3 linked regions of the Homo sapiens genome follow. The protein of the gene in region 2 purifies or fractionates together with the protein of the main gene of each other region. This does not show direct contact. Each region holds a gene or a part of one and is shown on either strand. Other genes may lie near its edges.

Region 1 (7,022 bases), on a different chromosome or scaffold from region 2:
AATAGCGAACATATATGGAGTCCTTGCTGTGTGCCATGCCTTCTTCATGGCACTCGCATTGCTGTAGTTTGTTGAGTTTTGGCATGGCCCCATGAGGCAGATAGTACTATTCAGTTTTAGATGCTTCTACAGACTGACTCCGTGGCAGAGTCAGGTTGCCATGCAGTAATTTCAGAAGGAGCCCCTATTGGCCATTTTCTACAACCTTTTTTCTTATTCCCTCTCTTTTTCTCCCTTCTCTGGCTGGCTGTGATTCTGTAATTCTTTCTGATTCATTCCAGCACAGTTTGCTGCTTTTCTGAAACAAAATATGCTGGTGAGGAAAGCTCTTCCTCCTGGCACCTCCTCCTGTCTCTTTGGTGAGTATTACTCTTTCTTGCCTGCTCGTCCACTACATTCTGCTCCTCAACCCCTTATTTATTTTCCATCTCTGCCTCTCATCTGCCTCAGTTTGGTTTCCTCCTGTTCTTTTCTCTCTCTTTCTTTGTATTCTTTTGTTTTGCTGACCCCTTTTGCTTACTCTGTAGTCTTTGCCCTTTTTCCATTCTTTTGTTTGCTTCTCATGGTGTTTTCTTTTTTGTCTCTTAGTGTGGTTCTTTCTTTCACTACGGTCTTGGCTCTGCTGCTTTTTTGTATGTCTGTGGCATTGCCTGAGTCTCAGTTTCCTTGTGTGTTTTTCTCCCTGCCTCCTGTCCTGTGTTTATCTGGTGGCTACAAGCCTACCAGCCACATATCAGCATAGAACCTGAAACTCCTTTCCCCTACACCCTCCTTCCTACTCTGATTTTAGCCAGTGCATTTGTCCCCTAAGCAATCCTTCTAGCTGGTTATGTCCTGACTGTTGCCTCATGCCAGGACCCCTCCTCCCTCCTCATGTGACTGCTACCTTCCTCCCCACACCAGTCTTTGCTTCCCTGTGCTACAAGAGGACTAGGGTGGACTTCTGGGTTTAAAGAGGAGGGAATCTTTGAGGAAGCTTGAAAGATAACCTAAGAGTCCAAAAAGCTTGGCTGTATACATGATGAGCCTGTTTGATTCAGTGGAAGTGGAAGCCCATGTGTGAACAGATGGCCTTTGTCTGTACTAGTACACATGACCTGGGGACTAGGTTGTGACATGGGCCAGTGTTGCCCTGTTACTTTTGGGTGGGAGCCGTGAGGTTGCCTGGTTGAGGTACTCTCTCTCCTAGTAGCTACTCATAGCCAGCTTTTAGTCCTGGTGACACTCCTCTTCATTGCCTCCATTTGGCAAGTGGATCCTCAACTGTGGGCTCTTAGGGCAGGGTGGGACTCTTGAGAGCCTTTGGAAAACTCTACTTTTTAGAGAGGACTGGATGACCTGCTCCTCCATGAGTTCTCATAGAATGTTTGATGTCTCCAACTGTGTGATGATGTGGGGAGGGCTTCAGACAGGAAGATGATCACATTTTTTGAGTCTGAGAAGGACTGTTTACTCATTCTGTTGAATCCTCTATTTTTGTTGTTGTTGCCATTGGCCTTGGCTAGGCAGGGTCAGGATGTCTTCTGTCTTTTAATTCCTACCAACTCAGGGCCCCTTCTCTTCCGATTCCAGTGCAGGATGAGGGATGAGAAGGGTGCCATCCTCTAAGAAGGGCAAAGTGGGGTCCCCCACGGACAGGGCCTGAGTGAAGTGGTCCTGAAGCATGGGCAGTCTCCTTTGAGGGGTGGCCCTGTACGTAGAGTGGTTATCCTGTGTGTTCTACATTCTACACATGGCTGTGTTGGTGCTGGTATTGACTGAGTGTCTGTTGGGATTTTTTGGATTGTGGAGGATCTCAACTCAGCTCCATGTCTTAGTTCCCATTTCATCAGAACCACCAGAGGAAGGAGAGAAAGAGGATCTTAGGGTTCAGCTGAAGCGACACCATCCCTCGAGTCCCCTTCCTGGCAGTAAGACCTCCAAACGACCGAAGATCAAGGTGTCCCTTATCTCCCAAGGGGACACAGCTGGAGGGCCTTGTGCTCCTTCCCAAGGAAGTGCTCCAGAAGGTGAGTTTCTCTTGGTACGTTAAATGAGAACTGAGCTCTCTCAGGTACACAGCATTGCCCTTTGGTGGCCATTCACCAGCATGTCAGCCTTTGCTTTATTTTGAGAGATGCCCGGAGCAAAGAAGACATGAGTCTGTACATGTGGGTAAAGTTGGCATGAGTCCATCTGAATGAGGACCAGGCAGGCAGAATATGAGAGGAAGCTGTGCCATCGTTCAAAGCATCCTATATTTTGTTCTTTTTTTGTTGGCTTCAATTAAAGGTACAGAATATTTCAGGAAGTTTAGAAAATAGAAGGAAAAAATAACCCCAACTCTCCCTACTCTAGCATAGTTCATCTTTTTTCATTTTCCAGTTTTCGTCCGTAATATCTTGCATTTAGCCTAAGCTGTGGAACCTGGAAACATAGAGGCCAAATAGGACTGACCAGGGGCCTTGGGGTTTTCTGTTTTGAAGCTGCAGGTGGGAAGCCCATCACCATGACACTGGGGCAGGCTTCAGCAGGGGCCAAGGAGCTCACAGGACTTCTCACCACAGCCAAGTGAGTGTTTATTGGACCATCTGTGTCTATTCCTTTTTTCCCTTCCCTCTGTTTCTGGTTTATTTAGTGCTTTGGAAAATGATGGATTCTGGATTCTTGTCAGTTTTGGAAATGTGACTTACTTCTGATTGGGATCTTTGTCTTGCTTTTGAGTCAACCCAGAGTTCACTTTTACTTAAGACTCCAAATCGTCCCCTGGCTTTTGCTATAAGTCCTGTAAGTAAGGACTTTTAGAAGACTAGAGGCCAGGTACAGAAAGTGGGACAAAGAAGCTGAAGGTTTTTGGTGTATGTCTGCTGCTGAAAGCCTTGCTGGGCCCCACTCTGTACCCTGCCAGTGTTGCTAGGGCTTGCTGTCCTGTGACCTTTGGATAACAGAGCTCCTTCCTTTGTCTCCAGGTCCAGTTCTTCTGAAGGTGGAGTCTCAGCCAGCCCAGTCCCTTCAGTGGTCTCCAGCAGCACTGCACCCAGTGCCTTGCACACACTGCAGAGCCGCCTGGTGGCCACATCTCCTGGCAGCTCCCTCCCAGGTATCTTGTGGCCCAGCATTCTCCCCTTCCAACACAGAATTTTTGGTCTGCTGCTTCTGGGTGGTCCTGGGAAAGCATCCCTGGAGCTAAATCCATAGGATGGGCCTCTGGGTCTTAGAGTGATCATAGAGGCTTGACGTGAAGCTGGAATTAGCTTGGGCAGAGGGATTCCTTGGCCTTGAATAAATGCAGTGAGTAAATGTCCTGGTCTGCAAGTGAGTAAATGTTCCAGTCTACAGGTGCTGTATCCTCTACTGTAAGGAGAAATAGCCGATAGGACATATATGTATAGTCAGCCTTTCTTATCCACAGGAGATTGGTTCTAGGACCCTCACCACTACCAAAATCCATGGATGCTCAAGTCCCTTATATGAAATTATGTCATACCGTTGGAATTCTATATCCACAGGTTTCTATCCGTGGTTGTTTGAATCTGCAAATCTGCTGTGAAGCTCACAGATAATTGAGAGCTGACTGTGGTTTTACTTTGCTGTTTTAAGCACATCTGCCTGAATAAAACTGGAAATGGTGCTACACTGGGCATTAGCAAAATGAGACATTTTTCTGTCTGTGCTTGTCTCTCTCTTTGTCCTACCCACTAACCCTACTTTGAAAGGCCTGTTGCCTGAGCCCAGCAGGGCCAAGGCATTGCAGAAACCCTCTCCTGGCCAGGCATGGTGACTCACACCTGTAATCCCAACACTTTGGGAGGCCGAGGTGGGTGGATCACCTGAGGTCAGGAGTTTGAGACCAGCCTGGCCAATATGGTGAAACCCCGTTTCTACTAAAAATACAAAAAATTAGCCGGGTGTGGTGGTGGGCACCTGTAATCCCAGCTGCTTGGTAGGCTGAGGCAGGAGAATCGCTTGAACCCAGGAGGTGGAGGTTGCAGTGAGCTGAGATTGTGCCATTGCGCTCCAGCCTGGGCAACGAGAGCGAAACTCCGTCTCAAAAAAAAATAAAATAAAATAAACCCTTTTCCTTTAAGAGAACCTTTCTTATTGCTTTGAGGCTACTTCCTTACTGCTTTGATTGTGTGAGGCGAAGTGAAAGTTGGATATTTATAATTCTTTTGGCTTAAAAAGTTCTTCCCTGGAAAGAAAGGAACAAACTTGGATTTCTCAAAATGGTCTAAAATGTATGACTGATGGTTTGCAGCAGGTGCAGAGCAAGTCCGGGGCAGTGTCTGGCACAGTACCTTTCCTGTGTGGCATCCATTGCGTGTGTGCCTAGTTGGGGAGAGCTTCCTGCCTTCTCTCTGAGGACGGGTGTCCAAGGGCAAGCACCACTGGTGTTTTAGTTGGTGGTGAGGGTGGATGGATGTGGCTGCTCTCGGGATAGTGCAAGTGATTGAGTCTCTACTGATTCCTGCTATGTCCTCTCTTAGGGGCCACATCAGCCAGCAGCCTCCTCCAAGGCCTCAGCTTCAGCTTGCAGGATATCAGCAGCAAGACCTCTGGCCTTCCAGCAAATCCCTCCCCAGGACCAGCCCCACAGGTGCACATCTGCCATCTGCTGGGCTGGGCAGGTGTAGGGAGGAGGCCTCCTCAGCTTAGTTGGTTTTGGCAGGGAAACTAGGTCTGGAGTCAGTGGATCAAGGACAAACAGCCTTCTAGCTACATAGCAGGGAACTTACAAAAGTTAAGGTCTATCATTTACTGTGTGACCTTGGGCAAGTTTCTTGACCACTCTGTTTTTGTTTCTTTGTCTATAAAATGAGGTAATAATAGTACCTCCCTCATAGAGTTGTTATAAGAATGAAATAATATATGCAAAATGCCTGGAAGAGTACCTTGCATGTAGTAGGCACTCAATACATGTTAGCCTTTAATAATATGCTGTGGGCCCTCCAAGCTCGAATGTTGCTGTTGGGCGACAGCTTCTGATCACCTGGGCTTGTGTGTCCCACAGGCCACCAGTGTGAAGTTGCCCACCCCCATGCAGAGCCTGGGTGCCATCACCACGGGCACCAGCACCATTGTCCGTACCATTCCTGTGGCCACCACTCTCTCCTCCTTGGGTGCCACTCCTGGTGGGAAGCCCACAGCCATCCACCAGCTGCTGACCAATGGGGGCCTCGCTAAGTTGGCAAGCAGCCTCCCTGGCCTGGCTCAGATCTCTAACCAAGCATCAGGTGAGTCTCTCATGAGAACTGTGGGGACTCCCAGATCTGGGATCTTTCCCCCAGGACCTTCCCATCTCATGTGGGCAAGGTATGATGTTGAAACCAGTCCCACAGGGTCCTGGCATTGACCTTTGGATTCAGCTGTGTGGACCCATCCCCCAGAGAGGTTGAGAGAACACAGGCTGTTTCCTGTTGCCTTTCAGATTGACTGATAGGGCATAGATGACCCAGCTGGGGAGGAGGCCAAGGGACTGTGTTATGTGGGGGAGAAGCTCTCCAGGAAAGGAAAGCCTCAGTAGAAGGTGGAGAGTGTGACTCAAAAATTCTGCTTCTCTCTCTTTATCTCAGGCTTGAAGGTCCCCACCACCATTACTCTGACACTTCGTGGCCAGCCGAGCAGGATCACTACACTGAGCCCTATGGGCTCAGGAGCAGCCCCATCCGAGGAGTCCTCTTCCCAGGTGCTGCCCTCCAGCTCACAGGTGAGTCTGCCAGGAAGGACTGAGGACATGGGCTTCATTATTGGGAAGTTTAAGACCAGCTGACTGGCTGATTGAAGGGGCTGCCCATGCACTGGACAGACGAGATTCAGATTCAAATTCAAATCTGTATTCTGGAGTTTGTGGCTTTATAATATTGAGCGAATCATGGACATCTTTGAGCTTCCTCTTCTACATCCCTCCCTTGATATTGTGAAGAGTACATATGTTCAAGTGGGTAGCAGTGTCTAGTATTTAATGTTTTTGTTTACTTTTCCTTTCGTTTCATTTTTTTCTCATCCTTGGTTTCATCCTTCAGAGGTTATGAGTAGAGGCTACTTGGCTAATGCTCTTTCTTTGTTTTTATTTTTATTTTTTGAGATGGAGTCTTGCTCTATCGCCCAAGCTGGAGTGCAGGGGTGTGATCTCGGCTCCCTGCAACCTCCACCTCCCCGGTTCAAGCAATTCTCCTGCCTCAGCCTCCCAAGTAACTGGGATTACAGGCGCCCGCCACCATGCCCGGCTACAACAGGGTTTCACTGTGTTGACCAGGCTGGCCTCGTACTCCTGACCTCAAGTGATCTACTTGTCTCGGCCTCTGAAAGTGCTGGGATTACAGGTGTGAGCCACCGCTCCTGGCCCTTTCTTTGTTTTTAAGGACATGGAGACAGAGATATCTCACTATGTTGCCCAAGCTGGCCTTGAACTCCAAGGTTTAAGTGGTCCTCCCGCCTCGGCCCCCAAGTATAATACTCTTTCTTTGACATTGGCTTTCTAGCACTGTGCCTTCCCATATCTTAGCATTTATTGCTGTCTTTTTAGGGCACAGCTAGGTTTTTATAGGTCTCACCCAGGAAGTCATGATTAGTTTCTCTTAGCTGATCTAATTTCCCCTGTGACCTTTTCAAGTCAAATATTTCTAATCTTAAAATGGTAATCTGAGGAGCCACTCAAAGATTAGAAGTTAAGCCAAAAAACAGTTTGAGTCTAGTACTGAGTGTGCTTTCCTTCAGTATCCGCTATACAGCCAAGGCCTTCCTGTGTCTCCCTGTCCTTTCCACCATGTCAACCTGCTTGTGAACTGGAGGTGCAGTGATAGTTCCTGAGCCATTCTAAAAGCTCTTCTGTCTCTTCCTCTTTAGGGAAAATACTGCACAGAGGTCAACACCTGACATTCGTTGGGATCATAGCTACCTTTTTTTGCAGAGGGATGGAAATGTTTTAATTTTATCTTATTTCTTATTTTTTCAATTATAAAAATGATTATGCTTATTTTAAATAATTCAAACATTATAGAAATAATTAATTTAGAAAGGGAAAGTTTCCCATGATGCTACTC
Region 2 (7,022 bases):
CACAAATGGTTGCTGACCTTTTACCTTCCTGGGAAAAAACAGAAAAACTAAAACAGCAACCCAGAGTTCTTTAAAAAAAAAAAAAAAAAAAAAAAGCAGGTCAATATTGTGGTCAACAAGTTATCCTAGCTCCATATAATAGAATAATGTAATTAGAGTTTATAGAGTATAATTATTATTATTTTTATTTATTTATTGAGGGGGGTCTTGTTTTGTTACCCAGGCTGGAGTGCAGTGGCGCAATCTCAGCTCATTACAACCTCAGTCTTCCGGGTTCAAGCGATTCTCATGTCTCAGCCTCCCGAGTAGCTGGGACTACAGGCACACACCACCATGCCCGACTAATGTTTCTGCATTTTTAGTAAAGACGGGTTTTCACCATGTTGGCCAGGCTGATCTTGAACTCCTGACCTCAAGTGATCTGCCCGCCTTGGCCTCCCAAAGTGCTGAGATTACAGGCGTGAGCCACCGTACCCGGCCTAGAGTATAATGATTAATGTTTATCCCAGTGATCTGAGTCATCAAGAAAAGGTTTATAATAAAGTTAAGATAGTATTTAATGCATTTTAGAAAGACTTTTCTTTAAACATTTTTGTTCTTTGAGAGTTTTATGTTCTTCTGTCTGGAAGACTTCATCCCAAATGCCTGTGATTGTGCGTATCACAGCCATTGTTTACTGCCTAATTGGTTTTCATATTCTGCAAGTTCTAACCCTCTGAAGTGATGCCCAACCTTTTCCCCGCATACGATGGTTCTCAGGGCTGGCTGCTGTGAGCTTCACTGTGTTGTTTTCTGACAGTGCTAATGCCTGGGCCCTCCTGCTCAGCTTTTGGTTCCCTCTGCTGCTGTGGAACTCTGGCTTCTGCCTGTCTCAAGGCTCAGCACAAAAGAGAATTCGTAGCACTTTCATGTGAAAGCAGACCCAGTCATTATTATTTGTATTCAAGAAGAACATGGTAGTTTCAAAATGAGTGCTACTTTTAAAATACTTCTTGAATCTTTGAATATTTTCTTTGACTATCTTGAGTATACAGAACAGTGTAGGACATTGTTACCAGGTGATATTTTTAAACCTCTATTATGTACAGTTGGTAAGATAATATAAAAACAAATATTCTTAGGAAGAAAAAGCAAATACTCAAATGAAAATGAAAATTATAAAGAGTGTCAAAATGCTGGTTTGGAACAAATGAACAAATTTGAAAAACTCAGAACAAAGAACTATTAGGAGTAGGTAAGAAAAATAGAAACGCTGTGATTATTTTTTGCTAAATAGGTTTTAGTAGCATCGTCTCAGACAGATAAATGCTTACCCTTATAATTTTTTTTTTTTTAAATACAAGGTCTTGCACTGTCACCAAGGCTGGAGTGTAGTGACACGATCTCGGCTTACTGCAACCTCTGCCTCCCGGACTCAGGTGATCCTTCTGCCTCAGCCTCCCAAGTAGCTGGGACTACAGGCGTGCCACCATGCCTGGCTAATTTTTGTATTTTCAGTAGAGTCGGGGCTTCACCAAGTTGGTCAGGCTGCTCTCAAACTCCTAACCTCAAATGATCTGCCTGCCTTGGCCTCGCACAGTACTGGGATTACAGGCGCTAGCCACCACACCCAGCCCCTTATAATTTTCTTTGTAAAAAAAGTTTATAGGCCAGGCGCGGTGGCTCATGCCTGTAGTCCCAGCACTTTGGGAAGCCAAGGCGGGCGAACCACGAGGTCAGGAGTTTGAGACCAGCCTGGCCAACATGGTGAAATCCTGTCTCTACTAAAATTACAAAATATTGGCCAGGTGTGGTGGCTCACACCTGTAATCCCAGCACTTTGGGAGGCCAAGGCAGGCAGATCACAAGGTCAGGAGATCAAGACCATCCTGGCTGACACGGTGAAACCCCATCTCTACTAAAAATACAAAAAAATTAGCCGGGCGTGGTGGCGGGTGCCTGTAGTCCCAGCTAGTTGGGAGGCTGAGGCAGGAGAATGGCATGAAGCCAGGAAGCAAAGCTTGCAGTGAGCAGAGATCACACCACTGCACTCTAGCCTGGGCGACAGAGCGAGGCTCCGTCTCAAAAAAAAAAAAAAAAAAAAAAAAAAGTACAAAAAATTAGCTGGGCGTAGTGGCGGGCGCCTGCAATCCCAGCTACTGAGGAGGCTGAGGCAGGAGAATTGCTTGAACCTGGGAGGCGGAGGTTGCAGTGAGCCAAGATCGAGCCACTGCACCTCCAGCCGGGTGACAGAGACTCCATCTCAAAAAAATAAAAATAGATAAAAATTATAAATATTTTTTAACCTATTTTAATTTTCCATTGCCCACTAGTAGTAAGTTTCACACATTTGGTTTTTCTTAATACTTTGATTCAATTGCTGCATGTGTGTTTCTTAACAAATTTGGAACATACCAATTATAATGGTGATAATTTATTTGAATTACAAGCCAACATCAAGTAAATGAGTTTAAATATATTGTCTTTAAAATACTTAGATTGTACTAAACTTTTCAGAATTAAGACAGTTAAACATTTTTGATGTGCCCTATAATTGTCTCATGGAATATGAATATTTTCTGGATGTCAGTTCTCAGAAAAAAATTCTGCTCTGGAGTTATTGTCCTAAATCTGAAACGCTATGGGCTTACTGAATTATCCTTATTGGAAAAATACTTTTTTTCTAGATTAAGGGTGTTTTTTTCTCTTTAATTATCTGGACATATGACTGACTTTTCATATGTTTTGTACAGAAAATGGTATATTCTAAAAGATTTTTGTCATTTTGTCTTAAAGCCTGTGTAATCTATAGCCTTAATGATTTCTTCCTTTTTGTGTCACATTGTAGGACGGCAGTGTCCGTGGGCTGATACCTCTGTAGTGTTTCCATGGTGATTTCAGAATTTGTTTTTTCTCCTCTTCATGCCCACTCTAGGGTTCTGATCCCACTGCATTCTCCGTCCTTACCCAAGCCATCACTGGCCAGGTGGGTTTTGTGGATGTGGAATTTTGCACTACCTGTGGAGAAAAGGGAGCAAGTAAAAGATGTTCAGTTTGCAAAATGGTAAGAATGGAGTTCTTTTTATTTCATTGACCTCTGGTTTAGATGCAGCCAAGCTGATGATTGAGTTTTAATATTCTGTAAGAGTGGACATTAGTTTTCTAATAAATTCTAGTAACGAAAATATTCTATTTAATACTTAAAAAGTAGTTTTGGAAAAGAATTAATAGGATCAATATAGTTCTTTACTGTGTCTGTCTTCTGCTAAACTGCCAGTCTTCCTTTGCCTCTTTGCTGATCACCTCATGGAAAGAAAGGATATGAATGAATGAATATGAGAAAATAAGAGAAAGGTTTTCCGTGGGGCACGAGACCAAGGCTGGTGCAGATGTGAAACCTAGAATAGGACAGTTCATAAATATACATTCTTTACTCTTCTGATGTTGACTTTAATGACAGTGTCTTCATCAACATATCCTTGTAAAACTATAGTTTCTGACTGTTACCAGTCTTTAATCCCTATGGACTGTACTGCCCCCTTCTGCCAGAATTATCTTTGTAAAAGGCATATCTGATTGTGTTGTTCTCATATCCAGATACTGGACACATGCATGTGTCCGTACATTCACTTAATCCCATAGGTAGCATCAACTGCCTGTTGACTTTAAGGTTGAAATTCTCCAGCATGTTGTATGAAACCCATTATAATCTGCTGTGACCTACTTCTTCAGCTTCATCTTGTTTAATGACTTACTTCTCTGAACCTGTTTCCTGAATTAAATGAAATTCCAGAATTAAATCAAACTATTTATATTGGTTAATTATTACTGCTTATAAAAACACACTCAAACTCAGTGCTTAAAATGATAATCATTTAGTCTTTCTCTCACAGTTGTGGTTGGCTGTTCTCAGCTGGGGCAGTTGTGCTCCATGTGACTCTCATCCTTCTTGTACTAGCAGGCTAGGCTGAGCATGTTGTCATGGCAATAGCAAAGGTACACATGGGCAGGTAGAAACACAGAAGACCTCTCAAGGACTAGCCTTGAAATTGCCATGTTGTTTCATGCTGTTGGTTGAAACAAATTACATGGCCCAATCTGAAGTCAAGTCTCCTCCCCTTCAGTGCAGAGAACTTTGAAATCATGTGAGAAAGTGTATGAATGCAAGGATGAATGAAGAATTGGGGCCAATAATACAATATATGTATAAGGGCCTACCACAGTGCTTGGCATACAGTAAGTGTTTAATAACATTCATTCCCATCTCCTTTCCACCCCTACTTGCAAAAATATAAGGCCATTTACAAAAACTTCTTGCTGTTCTTGAACATATCATTCACTTCCCTGTTCCTGCATTTTTGTACTAGATATTTTCTCCAGTTAGAATTCTTCTTTCCCATTTTTCTGTCTACCTCGACTCACCACAGCTAGAGTGAGTTGCTGCTTCCTCTATGCCTCCATCACTCTTACATCCTGTACTGTGTTAAGAAATTATGTATTTAGGTGCCTGCCTCTCTCCCTTCTTCCATATCTTTCTTTTTCTTGATGCTAGCTACCTTTGGGACAACTCTATCTTCCTTGTCATTGTACTGTACCAATTCTGGCACATAGCGGGTTCATAATAAGCTATTTGCTAAAGTCTTTGGTAGACTGTTTGTTATATATTCATTATTGTTTTAAAGTAAAGCTACAAACTATAAATCTAAATCAATACAAAGATACTGTGTTAGGCCGTTCTTACGTTGCTATAAAGAAATACTTGAGACTGGGTCATTTATAAAGAAAAGAGGTTTAATGGGCTCACGGTTCTGAAGGTATACAGGAAGCATGGCATGGGCATCTGCTCAGCTTCTGGTGAGGTCTCAGGAAGCCTTCAATTATGGTGGAAGGTGAAGGGGGAGCAGGCATGTCACATGGCAGGAGCTGGAGCAAGAGGAGGTGGGGGAGTTGCCACATACTTTTGAACAACCAGATCTTGTAAGAACTCACTCAGTATTGTGAGGACAGCACCAAGGGAAGGGTGCTAAACTGTTCATGAGAAAACCGCCCCCATGATCCTATCACCTCCCACTAGGCCCCACCTCCAACATTTGGGATCACAATTCAGTATGAGATTTAGAGGGGACAACATCCAAACTATATCAACCACATATTATGGTTTTAAAATAAAGTATGGAAAATGACATTTTTATAGCTTAGTTCTTGGTTTAGTCATAGTTAGGAAATCATACAACCCAAGCTCTGGAAATGAAAATAAACCAACAATTGCTTTCAGGTAATATATTGTGATCAAACCTGCCAGAAAACACACTGGTTTACTCATAAGAAAATCTGTAAGAATCTGAAGGACATTTACGAAAAGCAACAGTTGGAGGCTGCCAAAGAAAAGAGACAAGAGGAAAACCGTATGTATATAAAAACCGAGTTCACTCTGCTTTTTAGTGGAGAGAGAGATGATAGGTGATCTTAACACACTGAAACTGCGTCTTCTCTGGAAGCCATAGGAGCTCAGGAGTGACCGATGTAAGAATCACATTTAAATTTTAATGTGTCCCGTTTTTAAGTTCTTAGGATATAGTCAGCCTGGACATCACTGGAAAACAGAGACATCAAATTCTGAGGGATGTAGCTTATTTCATATTTTACATTCTAGCTTAGGTTACTGCCCTGGAACAATGGGACCCTTAATGGGTATTAACTTATATTCTGCTCATGAAGGATTTTAAAGTCTTTGAATAAGGGAATTAATTAAATTTCCACTAATGGCTACCAGAAGATTTTAAGGGTGGAAGCCTTTAAATTCCTTAATTAAATTTCAGAACTACAGGTGAAATTACAGAGTATATTTATAAATCATTCATTAAATTGCAGATCTAATATACAGATCAAATTTCTACAAGTGTCATAGCAGTGAATTTTGTATTTTTTTTTCTCCATCCCTCTTGAGGTTTTGTGACCCATTTTCATCAGAAATAGTGAGTTGCTTCAGCAGTGATTATCAGATTGGAGAGGAGAACTGCCCCCACCCTCATGCCTCATTCCAGAGAATGTATCATATGTTCTGGGGGAGTGCATGTAATTTGAAAAAGATGCCTCGGTTATTCTGATACCAGGCATTTCTGCCTCCATCTCTCAAGGAACCATATCCGCTTTACTACTGGGTTGAGATATACTCTCAGTGGAATTAAATGGTTTGTACACAATTAAACCATTTATCCTTAAGAGAATAGTCAGGCTTTCTGACTGCCATGCCTTCTCTTGTTTTCTTGACCAAACTTTTTTATTCTATGTGCTAAGGACAGAAAGTAACAAATGTTCATTACTAACACACTATTGAGGGAGAATAAGATTGTCAGTAGAATGGGCACTCCCAGTTGTTAAGCATCATTCATGCACCAAACACTGCTCTAAATGTTACAGACAACTTTATTCTTCACCAATGTAGGATAGCCTTTATTACCTGCATATTATAGACAAGGGAAACAACTTCATGCAGGCAATTACCTCTCCAAGGACATCAAATAAATTCACAGAAAAGCTGTATTCAAATACAGGCTTTGTCAAATCCCAAGCAACAATCTTGATTTAGAGATGGCTTTGGAGCCAGCGGCCTGAGTTCAAATGCTGGTTCTGCTGTTTCACTAGCCAGGAAACTTGCAGCAAGCTACCAAACCTCTCTCTTCTCAGTTTTCTCATTTGTAAAATAACGTTAGCGATGACAGTAGAGATACTAATATACCTCATGTAGTTGATAGGAAGATTAAATAATACATGTAAAGCATTGAGAAGAGTGTCTGACACATGGTAGGAACAAAATAACTTCTTCTTTTTTTAATCAGACGGCAAACTTGATGTCAATTCTAACTGTGTTAATGAAGAGCAACCAGAGGCTGAAGTAGGTATCTCTCAAAAGGATTCCAATCCTGAAGATTCCGGGGAAGGAAAGAAAGAATCTCTTGAAAGCGAAGCTGAGTTGGAAGGCTTACAGGATGCTCCTGCAGGGCCACAGGTGTCTGAGGAGTAAAAGCCAGAGCAAGTGCCAG
Region 3 (7,616 bases), on a different chromosome or scaffold from region 2:
GCCCTGCCTCTCCTGACACCCAGAAGGTCACCGCTTCAGAGCTGACTCTACCCCAGCCCCACTAACCACAGAACAGAGCTGGCGTGGGAGTTAAGACATCTCTACCAGACAGAGCACTGCAGGGGCAGGAAGTGGGGGAGCCTCTCTTGACCATCATTGGCACGAGGCTGGCAGGCTGGGCACCAAACCCAGATGCAGACATCTCCGCCTCATTCTCTGGTCACCGGCTTGCTGGCTCCCCAGGGACACACACTGCCTACTGTCCCTCAGGTCCCCTGGTCTCTGCAGCCCCTGAGGGCCTGGCACTTGGTGGGAACACAATACTATAATAGTTAAGCTGAGGCCGAAATTCCACCCCTTCCAGTAGAAAGCGTGCTCCAGGACCAGCAGAATGCGTGCTTTAGGACCAGGAGACCCTACGTCACAGTGGCCGGCATGACTGTCCCCATTTGCATCCCCACACCACACCTTCAGTGGGGAGACCACCATTCTCCACTTCATAGAACTCCCCAGGCACCCCGAGCTCCCGGAGGCAGGAAATATGACAACTGCGTCTTCCCTCTGTGCAGCCCTTCACGTATCCTAATGCGCTTTCCCCCACATCTCCTGCAATCCTGACAACAACCGTGTCATGCAGGCAGAGCGGACGTTATCCCCATTTGACAAAGGGGCACTGAGTCCACACAGCTAGTCAGTGCTGGGGAGAGATGGGAATCAAGGAGCCCTCTTCCCAAGGGAGGTCCTCCTTGCCAGGGTCACTGACAGGGAATGGCCAGGACAATGCTGCCTCAAGACCAGCCCTGGGTGGGCCTTCCTGTCACACACTTAGACTGGGCACAGGTGAAGAGTGGCCCTGAGGCCCAATGCCCTGACATCCTCCTTTCCCTGGGGCCAAGCACAGGCAGACTCCGGGTAATGGCACAGGGGTGAAAAGGCAGGGACTAGGGAGAGAGGTGAGAGCCCCGGAGGCCCCCAGGACACATTTTGACTCAAAGGCAAAGCAAACAGCAACTCCAACAGGTCCCAAGTTGGTGAGAGCTGCAGGAGAGGACGCTGTGGGGGGACAGTGGGCAGGACTCACCTCCCGCAGCAGCTGCATCCCCTTGAGCTCCTCCTGCTGCTGCTGGGCCACGGTGACCCCCAGGACCAACGTGTGCACCACACAGGAGACCACGGAGATGATCACGATGGGGCTGAGGCTGAGGGGCAGCGTGATGAAGAAGGAGAAGACAAAGAAGACCTGCCAGCCCACCGTGTCACTAGCCGCGTGGGCACGCGCGAAGTTCAGGCCCAGGTAGGAGAAGATCTGGGCGGTTATGAGCAGCCACAGCACGTAGGGCAGCACTCTGCGGGTGACCCGGTCCGGGAGCAGCCCCTTTTTGCAGAGCACGAAGAGGATGATGTCCAACACCAGTCCAATTCCAGCCACGGCGAGGGAAGCCAGCTTGTCGCTGGAGAAGACCACAGCACACATGACCACCACGTAGCAGTCAAAGAGGGCTGCAAAGACCACCAGCACCAGCAGGGTCTCGTGGCGCTGCCTTTTGAAGTAGGTCTGGTAGAGGTTCTCCAAGGACTCCGGCACGAAAGTCAGCCGCATGAAGCGAGGCAGGCACAGGCAGGAGCCCGAGTTCCGGACCGAGATTTCATGGGTCCGGCCCACCCCGCGGTCAGGGTCGGAGGGCAGGCTGACGGAGTACTCGGCTGAGTACTCGGCCGAGTATTCGGGCTCGGAGAAGCCCTGGTTCCTCGGCATACTGGCTGGTGTCTGCTACTGGCCCTAGAGAAGTGGACTGGGAACGGAGGAAGAGCTCTGGACTGGGCCTCCTCTCAGGGCTCTCTGAGACCGGGGGAGGGCTGAGGGCCTCTTCTTGTCTGGGGCGGAGGGGAGGCCACCTCCAGCAGGAACGCAGAGCGGGTTTCCAGAGCACAGGTAGCACTGATCAGCTAGAACTGAAAAGGGCATTGCTGAGTAGAAGCACCTCTTCCCTCCTACCTTGCGGTTTCCCCATGACCCGCCCTAACCCTCATAAAAGGATCTCTGCTGCAAGAGCCTCCCAACCCAGGGCCTTCCCTGCCACCCCCGGCTCACACCACCGCCCACCGCAGGCACACTTAGTCCTGTCCACGCCAGACACTCAATTTCCTGTCCCTGGCTTGTGGAAGGGCCTAGCCGCCTTTCCATCCCTGGTAACCGGTTTCTCTCTGTCATCTCTTCTTTCTCAGTCCCCGACTTCCTCACCTAAATTCCCTCCAGGCCCAGTCCTTAGAAGCTGTAAATAAAATGTGCCGGAAAGAAATCAGGACCATCGTGGGGGATTCCTGAGCCTTCCTTCTGTTTACTTCCTTTTTCCACCAAACCCTTGGAGGCTCGGGCTCCGATCCGGCCCCCTTCCCACGCTCGGGGCGCTGTCTTCCCCCCCGGAAGCCTGGCCCTGCCCCTGCGTTTACCTGTGCGGGAACTCGGCCACCGCGTGCTCCGGGACGGTCCCCGCGCGGGCTGGGGCGGGAGAGCTCGGCGCGCCCGAGGGCTGCTCCCCGCAGAGCCGCGCCGCCCCGGCAGCGCCTCGGGGCCCGGCCGGAGCGCGATCTCCCGCCGTCAGGCCCGGGATCCGACCGGGAGAGGCGCAGGGCTGCCCCTCAGCATCCGCGGGCGCCCGGCCGCAGGGGGAAGGAGGAGGCGGCGACGAGGGCTGGGAGATCCGTGGGCGCCGGCCCAGCGCGCCCGCCCTGGGGCTGAGGCTCAGGGGCAGGGGCCGTGCGGGGGCCGGCAGGCGCGGGCGGCGGCGAGCGCGGCTCTCCGGACCCCTCCCCTGCACCCGCGGCGGCGGCGGCTGCTAGGGGCGCGCGCGGGGCCCTCCCCGGCGGGAGCGCGGGCCGAGCCCGGGGAAGCCCGCCAGCATCCTCTCGCCCGCCCGCGCCGAGCCGAGCCAGCCGAGTCCGGGCTCGGCGTGCTGCACAGCTATTCCCCGCGCGGCGCCGGCGGCTCCGGGGCCACGCGCGCTCCAGGCCCCGGGAGGCGGGAGGCGGGAGGCGGGAGGCGGGCGGGGCGGCCCCTCCCTCGCCCCAGTCTCCGCCCTCTCGGCGGCGCGTTCCGGAGTGGGGCGGCGAGGGAGGCGCCGGGCGGCGGTCCCAGGACCCGCGCGGGCGAGAGGTGGAGGGGCCCGGGCGGCCCCCGATCCGGCGCGGGCGGCGGGCTGGGGCGATGGCTGCGTGGAAGCGCGGGCGCGGGCGCGGGCGTGGGCGGTGGGCGGTGGGCGGCAGGGCTGGGGCGAATCCACCCCTTCCAGCGAGGAGGCCCGGTCTAGGAGGATGGAAGCCCGGGACGCGCCCGCCCGCAGGTGAGGCGCGCTCGGGGCACCCCGCCGCCCCCTCCTCCGCCGCGGCTTCCTTCCGGGCCGGCAGAGGCCAGGGCTCAGGTTTGGGGACCGCTCCGCCGCGGGGCACGTGGGGCCTAAGTATCCCCGCCCACCCCGGGAGCCCAGACTCCGGAGCGCCGGGCCTGAGCTTTCCGCAGAGGGGCTCGGCAGCGGAGCCCTGTCCTGCTCCCAGGAGGCGGGTGGCGGTGGCCCGGTGGGCACTACACACGTGGAACTGGAAGAGTTCCTGAGACCCTGCTTCGAAGAGATTTCCCGTGCACATTCTACCCGTTTGAGATGTGTTTGAGTTCACAAACTGTCCCTTAAAGATGCGAATGCTCCTTTGAATAGTTAAACCTATCAGTCTCTTACACCATAGTATAAATTATTTTCCTTGCATTTGACAGAACACCGTGCTAAGATCAACTACAGGCTTTGGGAATTTAAATAAAGGAAGAGGAAAGAGATAGAATGTTTTGGGACAAAAGGGACAAAAGCATGTGTGGGAAGGTAAGTGCTGAGGACAGCCAGCAGCAATAGGGGGTCATCTCCCCTGGGGAGAGCTGAAGGAATGAACAGAGGGGAGAGAAACTTGGCTATCCAGACCCTGGATGGAGCTGCCACCCCATGCCCCTGAGAGTTATCCGCGGGCACCCCTTCCAGAACCTCAGGCATCACCTTGCATCCCTCGGGGAATGGATCCATTAGAGAATCGATCCTGCCACTGCTGTTTCTACCGTTCCCTCACACTCTGTCTGAAAAGGCGCCACCTTCAGCCCATACTTCGCAGGGCTTTGATTCCAAAGGTAGGGGACCTAACATCAGATATAGGAGTTTGGTAATTTAAATAAAGCAAAACTTTGCCCCATTGTTTTATTTTATTTCTATTTTTTATTTTTTCGAGACTGAGTCTCACTCTGTCACCCAGGCTGGAGTGCAGTGTTGTGATCTCAGCTCACTGCAACCTCCACCACCCAGGTTCACGCAATTCTCCTGCCTCAGCCTCCTGAATACCTGGGATTGCAGGCACACACCACCAAGCCCGGGGTAATTTTTGTATTTTTAGTAGATGGGGTTTCACTATGTTGGCTAGGCTGGTCTTGAACTCCTGACCTCAAGTGATCCGCCCACCTCAGCCTCCCAAAGTGCTGGGATTACAGGGATGAGCCACTGCTCTGGGCTGCCCCATTGTTTTAATTTGCTGGAGGTTTTTGGGTTTTGGGGGGGATTTTTTTTGGAGGGAGTTATTTGTGGTTTGTTTTTTGTTTTTGTTTTTTAAAAAGGAAGGCATTTATTTATTTATTTATGAGACAGAGTCTCACTCTGTCGCCCAGGCTGGAGTGCAGTGGCCATCTCAGCTCACTGCAACCTCCGCCTCCTGGGTTCAAGCAGTTCTCCTGCCTCAGCCTCCCAAGTAGCTGGGATTATAGGCACCTGCCACCATGCCTGGCTAAATTTTGTATTTTTAGTAGAGACAGGGTTTCATCATGTTGGCCAGGTTGGTCTCGAACTCCTGACCTCAAGTGATCTGCCTGCCTCAGCCTCCCAAAGTGTTGGGAATACAGGTGTGAGCCATCATGCCTGGACTTTGCTGGAGGTTTAAACATTTATTTTGAATTGTCACATGATGTTAAAGAGGACATGACTTTTATGTTTTACAAAGGGAGATGTAATGTACGGCAAGGCGCAGTGGCTCATGCCTGTAATCCCAGCTCTTTGGGAGGCCGAGGCAGGCAGATCACTTGAGGTCAGGAGTTCGAGACCAGCCTGGCTGACATGGCAAAACCCTGTCTCTACCAAAAAATACAAAAATTAGCCGAGCGTGGTGGCGGGTGCCTGAAGTCCCAGCTGCTCAGGAGACTGAGGTGGGAGAATCGCCTGACCCTAGGAGGCAGAGGTTGCAGTGAGCCAAGATCGTACCACTGCACTCCAGCCTGGGCAACAGAATGAGACCCTATCTCAAAAAAAAGTGGGGGTTGGGGGAGAGATGTGCTAATGTTTTTTAAAAGGCTGATAAATCTTGTGCTTGGTCCTGCTTTGGCACAAGAGACACCATGTTGCACCCTCTGTGGGTCCCTTCCCCTTCCTTGGCATACATGCCAGCCCTGTGATTCTCAGTGTGGCACCCTGTCCGCAAGGCCATGCCCAGCTCCTAAGCTGAGAGGGTTCTCTGCTGGGCCCTCTGCCACCACTCATGCCCCAGCCTCCCACCCCATGAAGGGAGAGAGTTCCACACAGAGGCACCCTCATATAAAAAGAACAACAACAAATTGATCCCTGCCTCTCCAGCCCCTGCCTGCTGGCTTCACTGTCCCACTCCCTGTTCTTCCACCATCCCTATCTCTCCTCTGTGGGCCCCTGTTCAGCGGGCACTGGGGAAACCAGAGGAGCCTTATAGTTCTGCCAAGGCACCATGTTGACTCATGAGGCAGACCCTCAGGTGTACACAGGTTACAGTTGGGGGTGACTTCTGGCTGAGGTGATCAGAGACAGGGCCTTTCAGGGCAAGAGGGAAGGATCTGATGGGCCTGAAAGGCAGGCGTTCCAGGTGGCTGGAGCCTCCCTGCAAAGGCCCAGCCGCAGGAAGAGCACAGCACATTCCCATCCCTGCTCCGCGTTCAGGGTTCTGGCACGGCCTTTCCCTGTGGATATGGGAAACGCAGTGGGACAGCAGTAGGCCCTTGCGAGGACTCCCGGGGAGCCAGAAGCATCTGGGTGAATATTCCTGGGCAAGAGAGCTGCTTGACATCCTGCCACAGAGGAGATCAGGGAAAATGCCGCGAGGGCCTCATCCATCTCACTCACAGTGGCTTCCCCAGTACCTGGCACCTAGTAGATACTCAAAAAATAGTCATTGAATGAATGGAAGTCTCCCTAAGAAGAAATGGTACTTTATAAAGGCACTGGCTGTCCTTGAAGGGACCAGCTGGCCTCATTCCCTGATACTGAGAATGTCCTGGTCCCAGGGCAATGAAAAATATCCACCCTCGAGTGAAAAGGGTGGGATTATGGGGGAGCTGTTTTCACTTTCCAAGCTATACATTTTGTATTGATGTAACCTGGACAACTGGCATGCTTCGCTTTTATAATCAAATGATACAGGAAATCTATACACACACAACTCAGGACCTCAAATGGCTGCATGGGTGACTTGCCCCTGTGGCTTGTCCTAAAAGGAAGACAGAATCATAGACTTAGGTCGAAGCTTGGAGGGCATCCTGACCCCCCCCAACCTCAATCCAGCATCTGCCTGGATGGGATGCCTCTTTGCTGAAGGCAACTTTTTGTTTGTGTGGTTCAAGACTAGAAATCATGGCTGAGAATTAATTGTTACTGGATAAACAAGAATGGTTTGGCCCCCCCGGGGAATGTGGTGGCTCTTGAATCCAGCAAACAATAGATCAGAGCAGAACTCTGTGTCCTGGGGGAAAACAGAAGTGGGAGAGAGAAGATCATTAGCTCCCCTGGTGCTGGGCACCAGGAGAGCCCTGTCTGGGGCCTGAAAGCAGAGCTTGAGACCCGGCCTGCATGCAGGTGGTTCAACTGGGGAAGTGATTCCAGGGAAACAGAGCAGGAGCCTGGGAAGCTCAAAACAGAGAAGGCAGGAAAGCCGGTAAATATGAGGGTTTGTGACGGAGTTGGCCACTGGTGTGGGAGGGGGCCTTGATCCTGCTGGGACCCTCTGATGAGCCTTGCAGAAGGCACCTCAGAGCTTTCCACTGGAGGGCTGGCAAAGGTGGGTGTTCGTCCTCCTTTCATCCTTCCCTGTTGGTTAAGGGTTGCCAGTTGGGGTATTCTCTCCCTGGCTCTTGTGCAAAGGAGGCTAAGCAGTGAGCGGACTGGGCAGGAAACGAGGGATCCTCAGTGCAGATACCTGGCAAGGTGCTGCTGGGGTGTGCCTGCAGCAGTAACGGGAGTGGAGAGGGGGACCGGGGGGATGTGGCATGTGATACTCAAGCATCCTGTGCAGGGCCCACACCCCTCATCCATTCCTGCTGGCTCAGAGGCTCAGCAGTTTGGATCCTGTCACCTGGAGGAGAGGTGTGTGGTACCCTAGGGAAAGCTGGCTCCCTGGAATCAGAGAGCTCAGTTTTGAGCATGGCCTTGATGAGAGCTGAGCACCTCGGACCAATTACTCAGCCCCCACAAGCCTGTGTCTCTGTGGTGCAGTGACAGCACTAACCCTTAGTCAGGATCCTTGTCAGGAAGTAGGGGATTCATGGGACCAACATGGTGGGCAGATCTCAACAAATCAAC

Evidence for each region. The genes of interacting proteins can lie anywhere in the genome.
Region 1: the proteins of ANKMY2 (region 2) and KANSL3 purify together in Homo sapiens (affinity purification with mass spectrometry; 2 studies listed by BioGRID and IntAct, with this or other methods). This does not show direct contact.
Region 3: the proteins of ANKMY2 (region 2) and ADCY3 purify together in Homo sapiens (affinity purification with mass spectrometry; 2 studies listed by BioGRID and IntAct, with this or other methods). This does not show direct contact.

The regions. Positions count from the first base shown.
Region 1 is NC_000002.12:96,600,307-96,607,328, reverse strand, and holds part of KANSL3 (KAT8 regulatory NSL complex subunit 3), read left to right. Parts: intron 1-281; coding exon of another isoform or gene 282-359; intron 360-1,791; coding exon of another isoform or gene 1,792-1,817; coding exon 1,818-2,009; intron 2,010-2,465; coding exon 2,466-2,550; intron 2,551-2,948; coding exon 2,949-3,079; intron 3,080-4,466; coding exon 4,467-4,576; intron 4,577-4,990; coding exon 4,991-5,213; intron 5,214-5,552; coding exon 5,553-5,686; intron 5,687-6,825; coding exon of another isoform or gene 6,826-6,855; exon of another isoform or gene 6,856-7,022. UniProt on the Homo sapiens protein: Non-catalytic component of the NSL histone acetyltransferase complex, a multiprotein complex that mediates histone H4 acetylation at 'Lys-5'- and 'Lys-8' (H4K5ac and H4K8ac) at transcription start sites and promotes transcription initiation.
Region 2 is NC_000007.14:16,600,742-16,607,763, reverse strand, and holds part of ANKMY2 (ankyrin repeat and MYND domain-containing protein 2), read left to right. Parts: intron 1-2,852; exon of another isoform or gene 2,853-2,914; coding exon 2,915-3,043; intron 3,044-5,254; coding exon 5,255-5,384; intron 5,385-6,818; coding exon 6,819-7,003; 3' UTR 7,004-7,022. UniProt on the Homo sapiens protein: May be involved in the trafficking of signaling proteins to the cilia.
Region 3 is NC_000002.12:24,917,232-24,924,847, forward strand, and holds the start of ADCY3 (adenylate cyclase type 3), read right to left. Parts: upstream 3,007-7,616; 5' UTR 2,452-3,006; intron 2,355-2,451; exon of another isoform or gene 2,243-2,354; intron 1,954-2,242; 5' UTR 1,757-1,953; coding exon 1,082-1,756; intron 1-1,081.